3 separate regions of the Homo sapiens genome follow, and all the other regions are linked to region 1. The links come from fine-mapping of genetic effects on gene expression. A gene starts in region 1. Each other region holds a variant in brackets. All regions are shown on one strand. Distances are between the middles of the regions.

Region 1 (8,187 bases):
GCAGATCTCAGGCCAGGTGTGGTTGCTGACACCTATGATCCCAGCATTTTGGGAGGTCAAGGCAGGCAGATAACTTGAGTGCAGGAGTTCAATACCAGCCTGGACAACATGGCAAAACCTCGTCTCTACAAAAAATTAAAAAAAAAAAAAAGCTTGGTGTGGTGGTATACGCCTGTGCTCCCAGCTACTCAGGAGGCTGAGGTGGGAGGATTGCTTGAGCCTGGGGAGGTCGAGGCTGCAATGAGCAGTGATTGGGCCACTGAATTCCAGCTTGAGTGACAGAGCATGACCCTGTCTAAAAACAAACAAACAAACTTCATAGATTCAATTCAATCCAATCACATTCTGGAAGTACCTTATGTACCCATAATAATGTTTCAGTCAACCACAAACTGCGTATAAAATGATGGTCCCATAAGATCATGATGAAGCTGAAAAGTTTCTATCACTTAGTGACATGGTAGCCATCGGAATATCCTAGCACGATGCAACATAATGCATTACTCTCCTTTGTGTGGTGATGCTGGTGTAAACAAACCTACCATACTGCCGGTCATATAAAATTACAGCACATACAATAATGTACAGTAAATACTTGATAATAATAAATGTCTATGCTACTCTGGCTTATGTGTTTACTGTACTGTACTTTTTATCATTAGATTATACTACTTCTACTTGTATATAAAAATGTTAACTGTAAAACAGCATCAGGCAGGTCCTTCAGGAGGTATTGCAGAAGAAGGCCTTGTTATCACAGGAGATGACTGTTCTATGTGTGTTATAGCCCCTGAAGCAGGACAAGATGTGGAGGTGAAAGATGGTGATAATGATCCTGACTCTTTATGGGCCCAGGCTAATGTGTGTGTTTCTGTTTTGTTTTTTAACCAAAAAGTTTAATTTTTTTTTGAGACAGAGTCTTGCTCTGTTGCCCAGGCTGGAGTGCAGTGGTACGATCTTGGCTCACTGCAACCTCCGCCTCCCAGGTTCAAGCGATCCTGCTGCCTCAGCCCCCCTAATAGCTGGGATTACAGGCACGCACCACCATGTCTGGCTAATTTTTGTATTTTTAGTAGAGACAGGGTTTTGCAATGTTGGCCAGGTTGGTCTCGAACTCCTGACCTCAGGTGATCCACCCGCCTCAGCCTACCAAAGTGCTGATATTACAGACATGACCCACCTGGCCTTTTAAAATTTTGTTTTTTAAATAGAAAAAGGCTTATAGAATAAGGAAATAAAGAAATGAAATATTTTTGAACAGCTGTACAATATGTTTGTGTTTTAAGCTGTGTTATTACAAAAGAGTCAAAAGTTACCCAGCCGTGGTGGCATGTGCCCGTAGTCCCAACTACTGGGGAGGCTGAGGCAGGAGGATTGCTTGAGGTTAGGAGGTCCAGGCTGCAGTGAACTGTGATTGTACCACTGGACTCCAGCCTGGGTGACAGAGTGAGACCCTGTCTCAAAGAAAAAAAGAGTCAAAAGTTAAAAAAAATTTATAAAGTAAAAAATTCAGGTAAGCTATGGTTAATTTATTATTGAAGAAAAAATGTTTATGTCTACAGTACAGCCTAAGTGTACATTGTTTACACTACAGTAGTAGTGTAGCATACAGTTATAGCCTACATAACTACAGTAGTGTAGTTATGTACAATAGTATACAGTTATGTCAGTAGTGTAAGGTTACGTACATTACAGTAGTGTACAGTTATGTCCTAGGTCTTCATATTCTCACTCATCATTCGTTGACTCACCCAGAGCAACTTCCAGTCCTATAAGCTCCATTTATGGTAAGTGCTCTATACAGATGCACCATTTTTTATCTTTTATACTGTATTTTTACTGTATTGTTTCAATGTTTAGATATAGAAATACCATTGTGTTACAATTGCCTACAGTACTGAGTACAGTAACATGCTGTACAGGCTTGTAGCCTAGGAGCAATAGGCTATACCATATAGCCTTGGTACGTAGTAGGCTATGCCATCTAGGTTTGTGTAAGTATACTATTATGCTCGCATAACAACAAAATTGCCTAAGGATACATTTCTTAGAATGTATTCCCCTAATTAATCAATGCATGATTATACATAGATAATAATTTCTAAAGGGAGGGGGAATGGGTAACAGTGCATACCTGCTGGGCACCGTGGCACATGTCTATAATTCAAACACTTCGGTAGACCGAGGCAGGAGGATCGCTTGAGTCCAGGAGTTTGAAACTAGCCAGGGCAAGATAGGAAGACCCCATCTTTACCAATAATAATAATAATAATAATAATAATAATAATAATAATAATAATAAAAAATTAGCCAGTCGTGGTGCCGCATGCCTGTGGTCCCAGCTACTTAGGAGGCTGAGGTGGGTGATGGCTTGAGGTCCCAGGAGGAGGTCGAGGCTGCAGTGAGCCATGATGGCGCCACTGCACTCCAGCCTGGGGGAAAGAGTGAGATCCTGTCTCAAAAACAAACAAACAAACAAACAGAAACCAGTACATACCTGTGCATTGTGTTAGGTGTGGGGGTCAAAGGTGAGCCAGCTTTTGCTCTGACTTCAAGGTGTTTATAATTAACTACAAAAGGGGACTAAGGTATTATGAAGAAGGGAGCTAATAAGCACAATAAGGGACAAATGTGAAGAGTGCTCTGCAAATGTAAAATGCTGCGTTGTGGAGGTTGTTCCAAAACGGGCCTTTAGATTCCGACACCTCTTTCCACACCATTAGAAGTAACAGAAAAAGAAAACAGTCCTTGAGAGGCTCAAGAATGGAGGACACAAATTCCCGGTGGCCACGCGAGCCGGATGACCTTGGAGAAGTTACACAGCCCTTAGCCTTAACCTCCTACCCTGGTAAATGAGAACTACAATATCTACCCTTCTATCGTGCAGATTAAGCAGGTAAAGTAATGGGCAAAGCATCTACTCTTGTGCCTGGCAGGAGTAAGGGCTCAATAAACCTTACTTGTGACTAGCACTAGTTTGCAACTTCTCCGACGGACTGAGAAGGGACATTCTGTGTAGAGTTACTTTAAGGGTCCTACTTAAGGGCACCGCCAAGCCGTCCATAGTTTCCACAAGGAACACTGCAGTCTCAGATTTGCGCTCCTTGCCTGAACCAAAGACAGCAAAATTGAGGTTTTTCTCGTGTAAACGGTGCCCTGGTCTCTTCCGCGTAGATAGGGAGGCGAGCTGCCGCAGAAGCTCCCGCTTAAAGAGGGGAAGCGGAGCACGGGATCTCCGAGGGGTCCCAGGTGCCGGGACTCCAGCAGAAGCCGCCCCCGCGGGAGAGCGGAGGCGGGGAAGTGGGCGCAGGGGGGCGTGGGCGACGGCGTCGGCTGTCAGTGCCAGCAGAGCCAGGGCGGGCACACCTACTCACCGCCCAATCCCCGGCCGTAGCCGCGGCCTTATGAATAAGCAACAAAGCGAAGCGCCCTCCCCCTAGCGTCCCAGACAGCGGAGGGAGTCGCCGCCGCTACCGCCGCCGCCGCCGCAGGGCCCGCCGCTGGGATGCCGAGCGCCCGCGCCGCCGCTGCCTCTGTCCTCCGCGCGCTGCTCAGCTGAAGGCGCACAGGTGAGGACGGGCCCGGCTCCGGCCACTTGGGCGGCCGCGGCTGCAGACGTGGCGCCGGGGCAGGGACGGAACCGGAGCCTCAGTGGCGTGGGGTCGCTCCGCGAGCGTAACAGTCCCGGGAGCGTTGCAGCCCTGGGTGCGCCAGGCGTGCGCCCCGATCCTCCTCCGGAGCGCGGTGCCCAGGTGTGGGGTGCGCGGGGGCAGCTCTGGGCGCGCTGGGCGCGGCGCGCAGGCCTCGGAGGACTCACCGCACTCCTAGCTCCAGCCCAGCCTCCCAGCTCCGCACCAGCGAGCCGGCCTTTGTGCTGGCGGAGCTTGCAGGGCTGGCTGCTTTTGTGTGGGCTTTTCTTTCTCTTTCTCCCTCCGCTCGCAATCCCACAGCAGTGAGAGAGAAGTTCCCGAAAACAACGGTTTACTCCTTTCAAACCGTCGATCGCAGTGTCCCCAATGCCACTCAGAGCCTAACAATCGAGGAGCGAATCGTTGCTGCGGTCACCACCGAAATATGTCCTGCCACTTTGCAGAAAACAAACAGTTGAGTGTTTAGCGCAGAGATGTCGAGCCTCCTTGCTCAGCCCCTGACTCGTCCCCCAGGACGCGGCTGGAGGACGCTCCTTGGAAAGGTCACTTAATTAGAAAGAGGGCCTGCGGGTTAGACCTGGGGGAGGCGAGGCTCTGCTTGAGACTCCGGAATAGTTGGGAGGTGCTGCCGGAGGTGCCCAAATGTCTCATGTGCCTCGTGGTCACTGACAGAATCTGACTTGTGTAGATTCCAAACATGTAGAACCTTGGCTGGCGAGGAGGCAAGCAGGAGTGAACAAAACAGGACCCTTAAGAGTTTGGGTTCTCAAAGATGAGATGATCCCGAGGATCCGCCTAGCACTTGGCATCCAATTTCAGTGCAGAACTGATGTGGAAGAGAGGAGAGATGGCTGCTTTAAAGTGTCTGCCTTCTTTCTTTGGAAGTTTTAGTTTGAAACTTGAGGGGGAGTGGGGAGTGGTTCACAAAACCATCCCTAGGGTTCTGAAGGATCTCTTCTCCAAAGGGCAAAAATTCTTGAGTGGTCAGAATTCACATGCCTTCTCTTTATTTTGGTGTATTTCCTTGATCACAAGTGATGCTGTTGGGCTCCAGGGAGTCTCCTTTTAGCCAAGCATCTACAGTCATTGACTGACTTCGGCACGTATGCCAGTAGAACCCCACAGTAGCATCTATTGAAACACACAACCGGCTAAGGTTTCACAGTATCAGAACATTGCTTCTTTTACACACAGAGGTTTAAAGGTACTCTGACTTGCTCTTATGAATAAAGTGGTTTTTTTTTTGTATTTGTCACAATAATGAACCGAGCACTTGTGCAGCAGACAGATTTGATATTAGTTGAGTTTATTCATAGAAACTCCCAAGGCTCACCAAGTCTAAGGTAGCTACAGCAACGGAGCCAATTAGAGAGATGTGAATTTGTCTTTGTTTTCATGGGAGGCTTCTTACTACATATTCCGGAGTTTCCTGCCAGACCTTTACAATATTATAATTTGGTATTACGGAAATGGTTCGATGCTAAATATAAGTGTAGAATCAAAATGAGGAAAACGGGTTTATCTGCTGTGGAAAATGTCCACTCCCCACCTAAAGGTGTCCTTTGCCCTTTATTCTGTAGATGTTTGTCTGAAAAGTGGTGTATGGAATTGTATTTTTGTTAATTGAACTTAAAAAACTTCTCACATAGGGAAGCTGTCTATGCAGAGGGAAACTGCTTTTAATTTTTGTAAAATGAAAACTCATTCCCTAAGCAAGATGTGAGGTCAATCTTATTTTTCCATATTGTGTTTACTTGGTGATTATAAGAGAAGTATCTGAAGCTAGTTTCAGCTTCCCTTTAAATGTCAGCTACTTAGAGATCTAGCCAAGCAAATGGCTACATTTGTGTACCACAAAAACCAGAAATGATATGTCCAATTGGGTCACTGAAATAAACTGTCTGATGGATGGAGAAGAGTTTGTTGATCAAGATTCATCAGGATAGGATTCTGCAGACAGCAGAACCCTCTCAGGTCACATTGTCTACATGATAAAGCTGAAAGGAGAAGCTCCATGAAAGTACCTTGGGGAAAAAAATGCTACTCCATTTGTGGCTGATGTTACAGATGCTCCAAATTGCTCACATTTCTGTATTTGACAGGAATGCATGTCAGTAGCATGCTAGTATGTCTTCTATTGCATGATAATTTACTTTTGTTTCAAACTGCTTTTATGTCTATTATCACTTTTGTGTGTGTTCTCCACCCTTTGAAAAAATATAACCAGCATTATTATTTCTACTTTGCAACAAGAAAACTTGAGTTTCAGTGATTTGCCTAAGGTAGAACTGGAACTCGAAGAAGCCTGTTTTTAAATCTTCAAGTCCATCTCCTTTTACCAGGGATGAGATGATATGCTAGGGGTGATAAGCACGGATATCTTCATTTGTCTACATCACTAATTTGTAGAGACTGAAGCTCCTGGGCTCAGTATGTAGAACTTAGGTGTGGTCTTCAGGGATGGTAAAGTACTTTTTACTGGTATTTAGTTTCCAGTAATTTAGCTATTTTGACCCCAGCCTACTTACCCTCTTCCCTGCCAGCTCTGGGGCTGCTTTCCTCCTGGGGGACCATGCTTTTCTTTGTGGTTACTTACTCCTTCTCCCTCCTTCCATTGTGATGGAACATGCTGCTGAAAGGATTGTTTGTCATTCAGCTATTTAATTTATGGTGAAGTATAGCTGCAGCCTAGATCCTAAAGCCAATATAACAGACCAGTGATGATTGTCAGTAGCACAGTGAATCAGAAACGTGGTACCTTAATGCCATTTGCCACAGCTGGGTTAATAGAGTGAGAGTCTTTATAAGCTCAGCTTTAAGTAAATACAATAGTATTGGCAATAAAATAGTGTTGGCAGTAACAGCCTTAAGGATTTAAAAAAAGAAAAAGTAAGACAATGATAAATTAATCATTGAGGAATGGTCATGAAAAGGACAAAGTGGAAAGATTGTTAAGACACAAAATGGAAAGATTATTAAGACACAAAGATTATTAAGACACTATCCCCCTCATCAGAGAATCACTAATTGTATTTCAAAAGGTGAGATGGTATTTGGCAAGCATGTTGACTTGACGCTGTGAGACTTGTTACCTGTAACTGTTGGTCTGTTGCGTGTGTGTGTGTGTGTGTGTGTGTGTGTGTGTGTAATAAACTCTGAAACCTTAAAATATAGCAGAAATGAGAACACATAAGTTATTGTTATTGTTAGAGTGACAGTTAAATAAGTAGCCAAAATTGGCTAGGTATTGAATAAAACATACAAGTAGACATGGTTAGACCATGAAATGTCATTAAAAAAATCTTACAGTACAAAATAAGGACTTGAAACGTTCTTTTTCATATTCTTAAATGGTTATTTATATTCACATCATGCCAACAAATATTTATGGAATCTCTCCTCTTTGTGCCTACCCTTATTACTAATTATGTGGCAAACAAAGGAATGGTAAAGACTAGTGTTTGTATGCAAAGAACATAATCTCATTTGAGGTGCTGAGACTTAAATGACAATTCATGCTACAGGAGCTAGGAGAAGGGTGGGGAAAGAATGGGCCAGAATGGGATGTGACCTGGGAGGCCAGGGTTTGGATACCTGGGTAGGGAACCATGGGTCGTACAGTGTCATTCTCAAAACTTGGGAGCCTGAGAGCTGAGCACGGTGGCTCACGCCTGTAATCCCAACACTTTGGGAGGCCGAGGTGGGTGGATCACGAAGCCAAGAGTTCGAGACCAGCCTGGCCAACATGGTGAAACCCCATTTCTACTAAGAATACAAAAATTAGCCGGGTGTGGTGGCACATGCCTGTTATCCTAGCTACTCGGGAGGCTGAGGCAGGAGAATTGCTTGAACCTGGGAGGTGGAGGTTGTGAGCCGAGATCATGCCACTGCACTGTAGCCTGGGCGACAGAGCGAGACTCCATCTCGAAAATAAAACAAACAAAAAACCAACTTAGGAGCCTGAGATGAGTATGGCACATAAAAGTGCTATGTATGTGACTGATGATGGTGTTTATACTGGGCACCAGTGGTATGGGGTTGCCTTATTAGAGATGGATTTTGGCAATTGCATATTTGGGGACATTATATGCTGTGTTTTGGGAAAGCAGAGAGTTGTCTGGCAAAGGTAGGGACGTTGAATTCTGACAGAATCCAAAAGATCAAAAACAGACACTATCCCTTAGGCAAGTTACTTATCCTCTACCAGCCTGTTGTTTTCCTCATTTAAAAAGTGGAATAACGACAGTATACCTCATTAGGTTGTTGTAAGGATTAAATAAGATAATTTCCACTGGGCACTTAGAACGCTTGGCACATAGCAGCTCCTAAGTGGTAGCTGTCTTTGATTGATTATTGCAATTTTTATTCTTAAGAATAAACCAGCTGGGTGTGGTGGCTCACACCTATAATCCAAGCAATTTGGGAGGCTGAGGTGGGCGGATCATGAGGTCAAGAGATTGAGACCATCCTGGCCAACATGGTGAAATGCCGTCTCTACTAAAAACACACAAACTAGCTGGGCGTGGTGGCGTGCGCC
Region 2 (8,170 bases), 150 kb after region 1:
TCAATCATACATGTCATACATGTTTATGATTAAGAGATATTCTTTTTGTGTGCTAGTTGATTTTGCCGAGAAAAAATGAAGAAGAATTCAAGAATGAGATGAGGGTAGGTAAGCTCTCAGAGCATTTCTGTCTGCCATTTGGTTCTATGCTTATGTGGCTGCTAATGTGACTAATTCAGAGTGTTGTATTTCCACATCTGTGGACTCCACCATGGAAAAGGTGGGCTACCATTGGTCCTTATATGGCTTTATTAGAAAAATAGACATTCTATCGTTTGTCTGCCCAGTGGCCAGAGTCCTGGTGAACAACAGAGCTCATGGGAAACCAGCCTCTCTCAGGGCACCCCGCTATGAGGATATTGAAATATGTTCAATCATTTCTCATCTCCCTTGGAATGTAATTCCCTGCCCTATACAAAATAGGATATTCCAATGCGCTATTTGAATCTAGGGATTGAGGATTTGTAGTTGAGTTTTGGGGTAAAGGCTTGGCTCATTGCCATGGAAGAATAAAAGTTATTTATTAATAGTGCTGTCACTGTGGAGTACTTGTTGGTGTTTATTAGAAGTTGTCTACTATGTTCAAGAAAAGTTGCACAGTTATTCCTCAGAGCTACTATGTGAGGTAGGACATATGTTTTTATTCTCCCATTTGACTGAAGATGGAACTGAAGCAGAGAAGTGAAATGATTTTCCAAAGTTGTACCCAGAGAGAATCAGCGTGAGAACCCACTTGGACCCAGCCATGCACCCTTATCTTCAGTTCAGTAACCTTTTCATAGACTTTGGTGGAAGCAGTGACATTTCAGGGTCCTTCTTTAAAACAAAGGTTCTAAGGGAATAGCAGGGAATAGCTGCCTGGTCAAGGAACGTTTGATGTGAATTTCCATCTTTGTTAAATGAATGATGCCTTTCTAATTTCTCTCTTACTCACACACAAGTTCTTTCCTTCCCCATCTCAGTTATCAGTTATTTCCTTTACAGTCATACATTTGAGTATCACCTCTATGGAACTAATAAACCTTCCTAGAATCCGTTTTTGAATAATGTCTGGCTCACAAGAACATTTTCATCAAATAATTTTAACTCTTTTTGCCAAGAGATGTAAGCAAATATGTGAAACTGATCAAGAGAAGTGAAAAGCTCTGTACAGTCAAATAGAAGTTAGCAACTGGCAAATTAGCTCAAGGTCAGATTTTAAAAATAGAATTCAGAATCATGACACTCAGAAGTGATTTGTAATTTCACGAGTAGAGACATCCTGATATTGCATAAGGGATGTTTTCCTTTTCTAAGAGCAGCCCTTTGCTGTAAGTGTTTCTAAGGTTGGGAGTAAGTGAGCATGGTGTGGCATTACTGTCTTTGTATTCTTGACAAACTATTTGTTGAGAATACGTCGTAGGCCACTTAACTGAGTAGCACATGGGTGATACTAGTGGCCATTATTGCCTTGGGCTACTCAATCTATAGTCTTAACTAAACCATGGCTAATAGGTTGAATCTTCAAACTGTAGTGTAATAAATTCCCAAATAACAGACCCATATTTTCATTTCTCAGAGGTCCGTGAGGATGACATGTATGTGAATTTTGGCTTAACACAGTATCTCTGTGGTCCTTTTTGGGACACATGATTTCTTAAAGGAAAAGATTATACTTAGAGTACATTTCTGTACAAACCCATTTAAACATCTGGATTGAGTGGAAGGTCGGTGGATGGTACAAATGACATGTTTATTTTGGCCATTTTCCTTGCTGCTGGTGGCTGTGGAATAATGATTTTCAGTGGTTGGCTTAGATTATTAAGAGGATCAGAAAAGGTTGTCATATTTTAAACAAAACCTGGGATTAGAGATGCTGCTACGAGATGGAAGTGCTGGCCAGTGGTTATATAGTGGTCCAGTTGAGAAGTAGTAAATCAGGCACTTGTAGGTTTACCCAAAATAAGTGACAAGTATGCTTATATTTGCACAATTAAAATAGAAAGTCAACTTTTTATTCAAACAACTAGGCTTAAAACATTTAACAGTGAAACAAATAAAGCTGTCTGGAAAGGAGGGCTGATTCCTGCAGCTTCAGTTGTGAACACCATCCCCACTGGACTGAGTTTACCCAGCCAGAACTGCCAGCATCCCACCGCAGGGGCAGGAACTAGGTCTTCTTCTCGGAGGGAGAGGCAGTGTTTCCAGAATTTGCAGGCTCATAAAAATCACCTGGGACACTTGTGAAACATACAGATCTCAAGGCCTTGCCCCAGACCTGATGAGTTAGAATCTCCAGGGAAGGAGCTTGGGGTATTCATGCCCCAGCAAGCTTGGGAACACAGCTAGGAGGGATCTATCTAGAGAACCACTTCCTTATGATAGAGACAAGGTCATTTAAAGTCACAATGAGATACCACCTCACACCTATTGGGATGGCTATTATTCAATAAAACAAAATATAACAATTGTTTCTGAGGATGTGGAGAAATTGGAATCCTTGTATACTGTGGGTGGGAATGTAAAATGGATAGCCACTGTGGAAAACAGTATGAAGATTCCTCAAAAAATTAAGATAGAACTACTATATAATCCAACTATCCCACTTCTGGGCATATATCCAAAAGAATAGAAATCAGGATCTTGAAGAAGTATCTGTACGCCTGTGTTCATTGCTTATGCTTATAAGCATATTATTCACAATAAGCTTATAAGTATTATTCACAATAGCCAAGATATGGAAATTGCATTGATAGATATGCAAATATCTATCAATAGATGAATGGATAAAGAAAATGTGGTATATACATACAGTAGAATATTATTCAGCCATAGGAAATAAGGAAATTCTGTCATTGTGACAATATGGATATACATGGAGAACATTATGCTAAGTGAAATAAACTAGTGACAGAAGGACAAATGCATGATTGCACTTCTTTGAGGTATCCAAAATAATCAAACTCATAAGGGCAGAGGCAAAATGGTGCTTGCCACGGGCTGGGCAAAGTTAAAGGTGGGGAGATGTTGATTAATTATGTTTCAGTTATGCAAGATGAATAAGTTCTAGAGCTCTGCTGTATAACATAGTGCCTATAGTTAACAATATCGTACTGTGCAGTTAAAAATTTGTTAAGAGGGCCGGGTGTGGTGGCTCACGCCTGTAATCCCAGCACTTTGGGAGGCCAAGGTGGGCAGATCATGAGGTCAGGAGATAGAAACCATCCTGGCTAACATGGTGAAACCCCATCTCTACTAAAAATACAAAAAATTAATTGGGCCTGGTAGCGCGCCTGTAGTCCCACCTACTCGGGAGGCTGAGTCAGGAGAATCGCTTGAACCCGGGAGGTGGAGGTTGCCATGAGCCAAGATTGCGCCACTGCACTCCAGCCTGGCGACAAAGTGAGACTCTGTCTCAAAAACAAAAACAAAAACAAAAAACAAAACAAAACAAAAATTTTTGTTAAGAGGGTAGATCTCACATTAAATGTTCTTAACACACACACACACAAACACACACACACACACACACACACACACACAAAAGAGACAAGGAGAGCAGTCCCCTGTAGGAAGAGACACTTTCCCTGGTCATGCTATCCAATAAATCACACCTGCTGTGGAGAAAGGAGAAAGGAAAACAAGGAAAGAGAAAAGGATGGAAGCTACTAGAAAAAGAATAGAAGGCTGGGATGGAGAGAAAAGGGTTTCTCCCATACCCCTGATGTCTTTTTCTCTAATTAGAAAAGACAGTGCTTTTCTTTCCAACCTCTTTAGTTTTTTCTTTCCCATAAGCTGTTTCTTTCAGTAGCTGCTAGCTTAATTTATATGCAATATTTGGAGTTAATTAGTATCCCAGGGTAACAGATTCCCTTAGCGATGCCTTAGCTGTGCCTTCAGCTGATAAACTGCCTCAAATACAATTTTCCAGAAACACTTTCTTAAAGTACCT[G/C]TATCTCTTAACATAGGTCAAAACTGTATGAAGAAATTTTAAAGCCAAGTTTTAGAACACATTTAAAGTAATTTTTGAAGAGTCAATTAAAAGTGGTTTTTCATTTTATGATTTTTTTCCCCAAATGCTAAGCGTTAAAAGCCAAAACATTTTATATAGGTATCCGAAAATTACATAGAGTGCATGGAGCATACTGAATACCTCGCTCTTCCTTCTGTGTCTGCCTCCAGGTGTCTTCTTCCTGTAGAAGTCCAAATGAAACACCTTATTTCCAATCACAGCCACAACCTGGGGGAGAAGAATCAAATCCTCCACAGGGATTGTGATTTCTGCAGATATGAATAATCCATGTTCCTACCAGCTGCCAAAAAAACAGCTTTTGGAAACAAGATGTACTATTTGGCGCAAGGTTATAGCTACGTGACATTTTGGCAAGACAGGCTTTTTTATGACCACAGAGGAATTTGAAGAGGCAGGAACACAACTGAAAAAAAATCTCTTCCCTTTATGGTATGTGAAGGTGTGGTTTCAAGCAAAGAAATATGGTAGAAGAAGATGGAGGAAAATCATAATGCAAGGCAAATATAAAAATGGCACAAAACATTAGAAAGTGCTGGAGGATGCCAAAGTTCTGAATGGACCAATGCTTGAAAAAATATAGAGAAAAGCAAGGAGAAGAATACAAATGAGGAAGATCATTAACAGGAGAAGGGACCATAAAGCTACACAAATCCATTTTGCCTCCACCTTCTCCATCAAATAATATTATCTCATAGTAGTTAGAATGAACATAGCTGGGGGTGGGGAACTGAAGTCCAAGATGGATGAGGAGGTAAAAGGTGCTTGGTTACTTTAAATGAGCTTAAGCTCAGTTAGATATCTTCTTTAATTGCACAGTCTTCAAATGACTGAATATAAACTTCTAGGAATAGGAAATAATTTGAAAGCAAAATAATGGTACTGACTTAGTAAAAGTCCCACATGTGCACATTTAGCACTCCTAGACTGATAAGCTGAAGATGAGCTGTGGAGAGATGTTGCCCTGATAATTATAGACTGGCAGTTAACATAGCTGGAAACATAATCCTGTTGCTTAATTTCTGCATGCAGAAAAAAACCCCAGCATTTATTTTGCAAGCCGCTGTAATACAAATGCACTGGGAGTGTCCTATTTGGGGTAATAGGTATATCTAACTCCCTTTTAATTAACCCAAATTTCTACCATGTGCATATAGGATAAAGAGAAGGAAGGAAGGAAGGAAGGAAGGAAGGAAGTAATTAAGGAATTCCCTCAGTAAGTAGCAGCAAAAGCACAAAGAAACAAGTCATTTGCTCCCATGTTCTAGTTTGTGTAAAAGCACAAAAAAATTGATGTAAAAAAACTTACATATTCCACCTAGTAAAGCAAATATCCTACTTTCTCTTTTCAAGAAGCAGCAGGAAAAGATCACTTATGTAAGTGATAACCATCAACAATTTGTAATATAGAGTATAAATTCTTCAGATGGATGTTGCTGAGAGGTGTAACCTTTTGTGGGTTAAGGATGGAGGAACTGAGGAGTAGAAACAGAAGAATTATCTGTGGGGGGAAAATCCTGTTATCTTTTTTCTCAAAGTGTATAGGTATAGGAATGGAGTGCAAGCAAAGTTGCAGGCAAAGTGGGCATCCACTTGGATTATTTTATTACCTTTAAGGTGGGTAGATCATCTGCTCTAGTCTCAAAAGAATAAACCTGGCATCAGTTCAGGAAACTGAGGTTTTTATTAACCAGTGTCATGTCCATCTCAATATTCTCTTCCTAATTAGCAGTCAAATAAAGGAAGGGACCAAAAGCATTTGAATCATTTCTCTAATTTTATGTCTCATGACATGGCCACAGCATTTGTGTAGTTCAGACTTCTTCATGACCAGACAGACTAAAGTAGGAAATTATAAGTAGTCTTCCAAAAAGGAATTTTGATACAAAACCTTCAATGGTCATTTTCCTTTATTTCCCTCTTTATGTAAGAGGTAAAGGAGGAGGAATAGGAAATGGTTTTGTGGTTGAACCAATCGAATCCCAAAGATTTGATTGGTTCTTTGCCGAGGAGGGTGAGGATGGCTAGAGACTCTATCTTCAGCAAACCAAGAACACTTGATATTGCTTCTGACTGAATCAGTATTTATTGAATGCCTTTTATGTGTCAGGTAATATGTTAAGTGTTGGGGGAGCCAAGACACAGTCCATGACTGGAAAGGGCTTATGGATTAGTAGGGAAGACAGAAAATGGGCAATTTCATATCAGAGACACTGGGATCCAGAAAAGGAATATCTAACTGGGTCAAGAAGATCAGGGATGCTTCTCCAGAGCAGGTAACATCAAACCTAAGGCCAGGAGGATGAGTGGGGTTATTCAGATAAAGGGGAGAAGGGGATATGTGATCTAGCCAGAGAAACCCCATGTGCAAAGGCCAGGGGTGAGAGATCAAGTAGTTAGCCTGGCTGGGGTGCTAGGTATTCTAGGGGAGTGAGAGTTGGGGTTGAGGGTAGTATGCTATGTGAAATACGGGGCTGAATGGGAAGGATCCTCTAGGTCCTGTCAAGGAATGAGGACTTTATTTGAGGGCAATTAGAAGTCATGCAAAAATATTATGCTGTGAAGTGTTATGATCAGGCCTGAGTTAATAGGAAGACTGGTTTGGGAAGGTTAAAGTCTGGAGTCAGAGACACCAGTGAAGGTCAAGGTTGATGCAGCAATGTAAGTGAGAGATAATCATGGCCTGGACCAAGGTTGCAGAAATGAACATGGAAGGGGAGAATGGGTTCTGGCGGTGTTCAGCAGGGGTAGACAGTGGGACTTGCAGATTGTTTAGATGGAGAGATGAGGGAAAAGACAACATTTAAAGCTGACTAGGGTCATGGGACTTTTGAGGCTTCTAGATACGATGGTCTAGTGTTCTGCCTTCTGGAGGGGCTGACCCTGTATTATCCCAGCATATCTAGGCCTGAGAAAAATAACCTACAAGCCTGCCAGAAATGTATAGGCAGCATTAATTTTTACAAAGTGTAAATGTGTGGTCATTTTCTGTGACTTCTTTTGTTTACTTTTTTTGAGACAGGGTCTTACTCTGTCACTCAGGCTATAGTGCAATGGTGCAATCATGGCTTACTGCAGCCTCAAACTCTTGGGCTTAAGTGATCCTTCCCCCTTAACTTCCTGAGTAGCTAGGACTACAGATGTGTGTCAGCACTCTCAGCTATTTTTTTTTTTTTTATTTTTTGTAGAGACAGGGTCTCACTATGTTGCCCAGGCTGGTCTCGAACGCCTGGGCTCAAGCTATGCTGCCTCAGCCTCCTGAGCTGTTGGAATTACAGGCATGAGCCACTGCACCTCGCCATTTTCTGTTACTTTTAATAGTAGGTACCAGTGAACTAACTTTGCATTTAATGAAACTTAAATATCTGGGAAAATTCTCCTAATACCTTTAGGGGATTACTTTGGTTGATCCCTAGATATGAGTTACTATCTCAGATCTGTTTGACTGTCTTGATTTGTAAAGGCTAATAGGAGAGTTTCTTATTCTTTGACAAGGGAACAAAGCTCAATATCTTGTTTTTCTTGAAAACAAATCCAAGAAACTTTTTTCTCAGGGCTGGTATGTATGAGGACAACATCTGGTCTTAGATGTGCAGCCTGCAGAATCAAGCAATGCAGCTCTGTGTCCTGGTGCTGAGCAGTTTCTGTGGCCTTTTGACAGTTCTTACGGGCAATCGTCAAGCCACTTACCTTCCTTAGCATATAAAAAATAAAGCAAGTTTCCCATAGTTGCCATATCAGCACAAGGCCAGATTCTGGAGGGCCTCAGGGACAATGATATGCAGAATTGAGAAAATTCAGAAAAACTTAAGAATAATTATCATTCCAGTCCCACCCGAAATGTTAACAATAATAAACATTGGTAACATTTTGGTCTGTACTTTTCTAATCTTTTTTTTCCTATGCATTTATGATATGCAATAAATACTTTTATTTTTATACAAAATCAGGATTATAATTTACATAGTATTTTGTTACCTCTCTGTAGCTATGTTTTCCCATGGTTGTTTTAAGAGGAATAGAAGAAAGGAAAACAGCTTGTGAAAATCCTAAGTTGTATTTGAACGAGCAAGCTGTGTTTCCTCATTAAAACATTTATTTCGCATTTGATGGTCCATAACTGCCCATTTACCTCAGGATGCCTCCATAGGATGAAAATAA
Region 3 (8,187 bases), 52 kb after region 1:
TGCAACCCTCTCTTTGGGATAGATAATAGGATGGAGTAAAGTGACTTTTGAGGTTCCTTTCATTTTTTTATAATTCTATACTTTAAAGAGAAGAGATTGGCTGAAGATGTTGAGGACCAAGTTGTCTTTGGTGGATGCTAGTGGTCAGAGAACAGTGATCCTAGGAGATCAGGATTATATAGTCACAATTGTTTTATCAGTGCAAACCTCTTAGGTTTGTGGGGAGCAAAGGACACTAAAATTAATTTTATAATGCTTCAAAAATAAATAAATGGGGTCAGACACAGTGGCTCACAGCTGTAATCCAGTACTTTGGGAGGCTGAGGTGGGAGGGTCAATTGAACCCAGGAGGTTGAGGCTGTAGTGAGCCATGTGCACATTACTGCACTCCAGCCTGGGTGACACAGCAAGACTACATCCAAAAAAAAATATAGTGCTCTTTTTGGACAGTTCCTGTTTATAGGAGGAAGGTCCACAAAGTTTTTAAGTAGGGTTTTTTTTTGGGGGGGGCGGGAGTTGGTTTTATGAATAATAGAAATTTATTTCCTCATCGTTCTGGAGGCTGAGGGGTCCAAGACCAAGGTACCAGCATCTGGCAAGGGTCTTCTTGCTGCGTCCTCATGTGGTGGAAGAGCAGAAGAGCATGAGCCCACTCCCATAGCCATTTTTATAAGGGCACCAATCTATTAATTTCCAAACATGAATTTTGGAGGATGCATGCAGACCATAGCAGGGAGGATCCTTCCTGCCTCTTCCAGCTTCTAGTGGCTCAAGTATTCTTCAGCTTGTGGCTTTATCATTCCAGTGTCTGCCTCCCTCTCCACATGACTTTCTCTTTGTCTCTGTGTCTGTATCTCAAGTCTTTCTCTGCCTTATTCTATTTTTTTTTTTTTCGAGATGGAGTTTTGGTCTTGTTGCCCAGGCTGGAGTGCAATGGTGCGATCTCGGCTCACTGCAACCTCCACCTCCCGGGTTCAAGCAATTCTCATGCGTCAGCCTCCCGTGTAGCTGGGATTACAGGCATGCATCACCACGTCCAGCTAATTTTGTATTTTTAGTACAGAGTAGGTTTCTCCACATTGGTCAGGCTGGTCTTGAGCTCCTGACCTCAGGTGATCTGCCTGCCTTGGCCTCCCAAAGTGCTGGGATTACAGGTGTGAGCCACCGTGCCTGACCTCTGCCTTACTCTTTTTTTTTTTTTTTTTTTTTTGAGACGGAGTCTCGCTCTGTCGCCCAGGCCGGACTGCGGACTGCAGTGGCGCAATCTCGGCTCACTGCAAGCTCCGCTTCCCGGGTTCACGCCATTCTCCTGCCTCAGCCTCCCGAGTAGCTGGGACTACAGGCGCCCGCCACCGCGCCCGGCTAATTTTTTGTATTTTTAGTAGAGACGGGGTTTCACCTTGTTAGCCAGGATGGTCTCGATCTCCTGACCTCATGATCCACCCGCCTCGGCCTCCCAAAGTGCTGGGATTACAGGCGTGAGCCACCGCGCCCGGCCGCCTTACTCTTATAAGGATTTTTGTCGTTGTACTTAAGGTCCACCAAGATAATCCAAGACTATTTCATCTCAAGATCTTTAACTTACTTGTACCTGCAAAGATTCTTTTACCAAACGAGGTCCCATTTGCAGGTTCTAGGGGCCCAGATGTGGGTTTATCTCTTTGGGACCACCGTTCCACCCTCTGCTGTCTCCAAAACACATGTCAAGTCTGTCCGCTTTTCCACTATCACTGCACCACCATGGTTCTTCTCTCCTGGGACTCCTGCCATCAGCCTCTCTTGCTTTCCTTTCTCTACCCCATAACTCATTTCCACACAGCCTGAGGGATATTTTAAAACCCTGCCCCAAACCATGTATCCCTGCCTGAGGCCTTCCAGTGCCTTCTCTTACCTGTGCAGAGCTGGTCTCCTGCTGAGAATTTACATCTTCACACAAAACGTTATCACCTTGAGGTGAGCTCCCAGTGATTTTCAGCTCATGTGCTCATGCCACTCTTCCACTACCCAGCCCAGCAGGCCACCAAGTTTCATTTTATTCTCAGCATTTATCACAACTTGAAAGCATTCTCTCTCTCTCTCTCTCCTTCATTCACCCATCCCTCCTTCAACCCACCTACCTACCCATCCATTTGTGAAATTAAAGAACAGACTTCTTCTTTGTGAGGAATATCTTTAACGTATTTTAAAACAGTTTCATCACCTGCCCTCCTCTCCACACCCTCTCCCCCGTTTTCTCTTCTATCAATGGTGGGTTCTTCATGTCCATGGTGTCTGGGCTTTTCACAATCCTCACTGCTGTTTTCTATCATGCTACCGGGCAGGGCAGGCAAAACAAATTGAGATTTTTTTCTGGTTAAAATCTCCAAACAAAGTTGTGAAAAAAAAAAACCCAAGTAATTTTAGAAATGTCATTTTTACCTAAGAATTGACTTGCTTGAGTTTCTCTTTATGGATTGACTATTACCTCATTGAAGGACAAAAGGTTAAGATTTTTGGCAGTGAACTTCTTTAGATGTCAGACCATTGCTTGGGCTATGCAGCAGATTCATTTCCTTTTCAGTCCCCACAACTTGCTGCTGTTGCTTTCCTGCTCATCACTTCTGTGAAAATCATTGTCCTTTTCCTTTTTCTCTTTTTTGGTCTTTGTTTGAACTGTCTTCTGCTTTCATTTCACCATTCTGATGGAAATCTAAGTGTTGTTTTGTGGAACAAGTATCCCCTTTGATGTCTCTAGGCACTTCCATGCCCAATTTGTGACAGAATTCTCTGTTTTCATTTCTGCTTCTTGGAGACCTGATACCAATTTGTAAACAGTCTCATGTATGGTGCTCTCATGACCGATGTACTGCAGTGAGTGAGTGTGACGCATCACAGTCCTACATGCAGGGCAGGTGTTGTTCTCTTACAAATACTTTACCAGGCAACCCCTACAGAATGTGTGCAGACACTTGGTCACCCTGGTTGCATCAATGAGGTGCCCACTACACAGGCGGCAGGTGATGTGGGCCTTAGTGTCCCACAGCTTAATCCTTCTGGTCAACATCTTTGGCTTTTCCTTTGGATGTCTGTCTGCTTGTTTTTCTTTCTGCCTTAGCATGGAGGCCCCACGTCATCACTCTGACTCACTGATTCTGCCTCACTCTGCACTCTGGTTCACTTCTGGCCCTTGCTGTTTTTCAGTTTTCTAGCACAGAAACAGTTACTTTTGAGGGATGGCCAGGAGTCCCTGCTACATTGTGAAGCTGTGATCTTGGTCTTGGGGGTACAGGCAGGGGCACTCCAGGAGAAGGAAGGGGTGCCACTCCTTTCGGATCCACCCCCAAGAGGAGGAGAAAACACCTGTCAAGAATCTAAAATAAAGACATGGAAGTCCTCAGGTAGTTTTAATGGTTCCTGATAGTTTTCCTAATAACCTAAATTTCCATCATGTTTCCTCTATCCAGCCTCTTTTTCAACTTCTCTTTAATTAGAGTCCCTGGTCCATCTTTATAATTACTCCTTCACACACAATCAGTACCCTTTCTTACCCTCTCTCTATCCCTCACACTCTCAATTGAGCTCTTCTGGTAAAACTTGCTGCTGGTTAAATCTCTGTGCCTACTCACCTCTCCACCCATGCCTGCGCCCAAGCAGCTGAATGTGGCTTGAGAAAAACTCACAACCATCTTAACAGGTCTCACTTTAGATATATGATGTCACATCTGAAGTGGGCCTAGAGGGCTGCCTGGCAGTCCTGCCCCATTTCTCTGAGAATGTACTCGCCTACTCTCCAAGACGACTATTTCACGCTTTTTCCTCTCACCTCAAACCACCAACATTTCTCTTTTCCTTTCCAGTTTTTTTATTTGACCGAGAATAAAAGAAATATAAAGATCCCCTACCCACCAAATCTGCCCACCTTCCTGCACCATGCCTGTTTCTCTGCCTTCCCTTTTTCCTACCGTTTCAGGGGAGGATGTATCCAAACCAGCCTGTGCACTGGACCTTGTCTTCTTTTAGTCATTATGAAGAAGCCAACCTGTCCAGTATGCACCAGGCTTAGTTTTAAGTACCTTATAAATTAACTAATGAAATCCTTACAACAGCCTTGTGAGGTAGGAATAATATCAGTTTTACAGACGAGGAGGTTGAGGCACAGCAAAATTCAGCAACGTGTGCAAAAATCACACAGCCGTAATAAATTTGTGTGGCTTCAGAGTCTATGCATGCAGCCACTGTATAATACCATGTCTCCCAGGATATTCTCCCGCAGCTGCTTCTGTCTTTCCTGCCTCATTGATTGCCCCTTTCGATGAGATCTGACCCATTAACTTACAAGCAGGTTCTATTTTCTATATTCTATTTTAAGACCCTACCCTTGACCCTGTGTCTCTCTCCACCTGCCCCCTATTTTCTCTGTTCTCCTTTTAGCCAAATTTCTGGTAAGAATTTTTTGTTTGTTTGTTGTGTCTTCTTTTCTAATCTTTTTTTGAACCACTCCAACCTGGCCTTTGTCTATATCATTCCTCCAAAACAAC[T/A]TTTGTCAAGGTCCCCCGTGCCCTCCCAATGTCCAAGCCAGAGGGACACCCTCAGTCTCTTACTCGGGCCCTTGGAGACGCTTTCTTCATTTGCCTTCCCTGACACCACACACTTCTTGGATTTTCTCCCACCCTGGTGGTTACTCCTGTTTCCTGTGTGGATCTTCCTCTGCTGGTCACCCTCTAAGTGGTGGCTTTGCCCGGGAATGTGGTCTGGACCATTTCCCTTTCTGTCTATATTCACCTTCTTGATAATCTCAGCCAGTCTCAAGGCTTTGAATATTATTAATAAATTGACAATTCCCAAAATTTATCTCTAGCTTTGAAACTTCCCTAGACTTCCAACATTCCCTTGGATGCCATAGGCCATCACACAGTTACTGTATCTCAAATGCAAATTCTTGTTTTGACTCCTTATCTTTTAGATCCCGTTTTCAGTCATGTGGGATCTTCCTCCTGCATCTCACATTGTACTTATCAGCAGGGTTCTACCTTGAAATTACATCCCCGATATGACTACCTCTCTCCTCTTTCCAGATTGTACCCTAGTCCAAAGCACCATAATCTATTCCTGGTTTTTAAGTGGACTCCTTGTCAGCCTTCTTTTTTCATCTCTTGCTTTGATATAGCCTGTTCTCCACCCTGCTGCTAGAGTCATTCTTTAAAAATATAAGTCAGTACTACCTGTTCCCCAAAAACCTATTGAAATAAATAAAAGACTTAAAAAAAAAAAAAGTCAGATCTGGCCCCTGCCTACTTCTTCCTACCTCATTTCCTGTATTTGCCCTGTGCCTCCCAGCCCAGGCTTCTTTGCCATTGTTTGAACACAGCGAGGCCACACCTGCCTCAAGGATTAGGTCCTTGCCATTTCCTCCACTGGGAATGCTCTTCCTGTAGATGTTGACTTAAATTAAACAAAAGAATGCATTATTTTGGTGTGGCCTCTGTTCAAACTTTACCTTGTCAGAAAAGCTTTCTTTAATCACCCTTTCTAAAATAGCAGTGCCTGGCGTTTTCTATCTTCTTGCCAGTTTTAATGAGAGTGTAGAGTCACCTGCCTATTGGTGTATCTGTTTGTTTGCTGTGAGTCTCCCTGGGTGGCACATGGGCTCCACGAAGGCAGAGACGTTATTGCTTTTATCCCTAGTGTCTGCAACGGCACCCGTTAGGGGGTTGATACATATTTGTTGAATTTTTAGAATAGTGACAGACATTAATCCTACAAAGTTAAAGGACATATAAGAATAAAAAAAGATTAAAGGTGATTTTTTTTAAAAGTTAAAAAGCCTCTGAATGATAGAGGAAAGGTAGTATGGGTGGAGAAAGTTGTGTAGAAGCAGAAAAGGAGAGTCTCACAATTCTTGGGTGGCTCCAGTTCTTCTTCTTCCCTTCTTTTCTCCACCATAGGAGGAGAATTACCTGTTGCAGTAACTGCTGTGCCGAGAGTCAAGGGGAGAGAGCAAAGGGAAGGCCTTCTGTGAACTTTGTGGGCACTTACCAGGGGCTTCAGAGGTGCATCCATGGTGAGGATGGGGCCTTGAAGTATTACTAGGAAATTAACATTGGTGAAACAAAATGAAATTGGGAATCATATGTTCCTTAAACCCACTCCACTTGGAGCATTGAAAATGACAGCTTGTGGTGAAGTGCCATGGCTCACGCCTATAATACTAGCATTGTGGGAGGCCGAGGGAGGAGGATGGCTTGAGTCCAGGAGTCTGAGACTGTGGTGAACCATGATCACGCCACTGCACTCCAGCCTGGGTGACAGAGCAAGACTCCGTCTCAAAAATAAATAAATAAATAAATAAAAAATAAAAAAAAAAAAATCAAGAAAACGACGAATTGTGAATGTTAACTCTTACAATGAAGATAATGGTAATTTTTAATGTGCTGCCTTTCTGACCACTCCTGGTGAATATCCCACTTCCCAATTCCTTTAGAGTTGGATTGAGAATGTTGATGCAATTATTTCCAGTTTCTTGGATTACTCTTCCTTAGAGAGAACAAGATCCAAGAGTGAATTTATGTGCTCCTCACTTACCATTTTTGTGAGTTCTACTCACTGATGTGGATGAATAGAAAAAGCTGTGCCAAAATAATGAATTGTCTCCTTTAACATTATGAGCTATAAAGGGATGGGAACAGCTTCTTTTAAGTTCTGTTAGTATTTCACAGTGTGCTAACTGATAAACTTTTAATGATCTCCAGAAAACAGCAAGGGGATGTTTACTACCCTTGTAAATATAAATAACTTTAATAACAAATCATATTACTTGAACTTTGACTCCCAGTAAACATAATACCTGATACTTATCTGACATAACTATGGTTTTGAAAGTTTAAACTCTAGGACATATGGTGGGTGTATAATCCTGCAAAGTTCACATTGTCTGACTTTGGCTATAAAGATGTGTTTCAAAAGGCCAAACAATTATTTTGTAGTGTTTGGATCATTTCCAAGGATTCATTTGTTTCAGCATAAACTCATTATATGTTTATGCTTCCCTTTGATTTCTTTTTGCCTAGAGGGACAAGAAGATGAGGATGAAGAGGATGAAGAAGATGAAGATGAAGAAGAGGAAGATGAGGAAGAAGATGAGGAAGATAAAGATGCAGACTCGCTGGATGAGGGCTTGGATGGTGACACTGAGCTGCCAGGTTTTACCCTCCCTGGTATCACATCCCAGGAACCAGGCTTAGAGGAGGGAAACATGGACCTGTTGGAGGGAGCTACCTACCAGGTGCCAGATGCCCTCGAGTGGGAACAGCAGAATCAAGGCCTGGGTAAGAGTCATGTGTATTTCCCTTTTCCTCCCTTCTCCCCTCCTTTTATATTTCTCAGATGACAGCCTTCTTTCATTGCCATCTATTGTAAAGAAAAATGGATTTTCTTTGTTTATGGGTGGTTTCTACATTTATGGGTGGTTAAGAATATAAGTATAAACTCACCGAAGAAATAACTGATAATTAAAAATTAAAAATGATCACTTATTTCTTCGATGAGTTTATATTTATGCCCTTAAGTAGCCAGGCTCCAAACAGTCTCCAGCTGCCTATTATGAGTACAGTTGCCTGATGTTTGGAAGAAATTCAGTTTTTCCTTCCCAGTTGGGAGACAGTTGTAGGCTTTAGGAGGACATCCGCACAGGGAGGAGATACGTGTAACCAGGATGTTGGACAAGCAGCACCATGGGACAGAGTCGAAGAACAAATGCATTTTTTGTTCCGCTCTGTCCTTTGGGAATCTATTACCTAGGGGAAGTTCTTCCCCTGCTTGTGGGTGAGCAGTTGGGCAGTCCCATGATTTTTCTGTTCAGACTTGTGGCTGCATTACCTTGTCAAACACGATTTCATTTCAGCAGCTAGGGTGGCCAGACCACTCCATGCTCACTCTCTCTTATTCATGGCCCGTGCTTGTGGTGAGAGACTTGGAGGATGCAGGCCGCTCCTCAGCTCAGCACTTCCTTCCACATCGACAGGGAAGCTCCCCAGTCTGTCCCTCTCCTCTTGTCAGGGGAGACGCTATTAAGCTCTCAGTGACTCCTTGAGGCCCTATTCCCTTGACCTGAGGTGAATTAATCTCTTCTCCAAGGAAACTCTTCTCTAAAATGCTCCTAGTCTTTAACAGCTAGGCCCATTGATTCCTTCAGTGTGGCAGATGTTAGGG

Which allele goes with the higher level. Alleles are on the strand shown, and positions count from the first base shown. SD is a standard deviation of normalised expression in the study named. Not every link is listed here.
For the expression in putamen of the gene that starts at base 3,431 in region 1, A is the low allele of the variant in region 3 and T is the other (moderate effect, 0.47 SD a copy in GTEx).

The links.
Region 2: its variant is fine-mapped to the expression of ARMH4 in nasal epithelium (TOPMed, PIP 0.94).
Region 3: its variant is fine-mapped to the expression of ARMH4 in putamen (GTEx, PIP 0.93).

What each region holds. Positions count from the first base shown.
Region 1 is chr14:58,147,457-58,155,643 of GRCh38, reverse strand. It overlaps ARMH4 (armadillo like helical domain containing 4), which reads left to right and starts at 3,431. Exons shown (of 8, transcript NM_001001872.4): 1 at 3,431-3,569. RefSeq lists silencers at 3,237-3,306, 3,199-3,493, 3,387-3,606, 3,707-3,896.
Region 2 is chr14:57,995,841-58,004,010 of GRCh38, reverse strand. ARMH4 (armadillo like helical domain containing 4) reads left to right here. Exons shown (of 8, transcript NM_001001872.4): 8 at 1-3,250. Among named protein-coding and RNA genes, the nearest start is that of SLC35F4, 130 kb to the right of the region's middle. The variant G/C (reference allele first, on the strand shown) is at 3,932.
Region 3 is chr14:58,095,841-58,104,027 of GRCh38, reverse strand. It overlaps ARMH4 (armadillo like helical domain containing 4), which reads left to right. Exons shown (of 8, transcript NM_001001872.4): 5 at 7,047-7,304. It also overlaps the pseudogene LOC100420347. Among named protein-coding and RNA genes, the nearest start is that of ARMH4, 52 kb to the left of the region's middle. The variant T/A (reference allele first, on the strand shown) is at 4,518.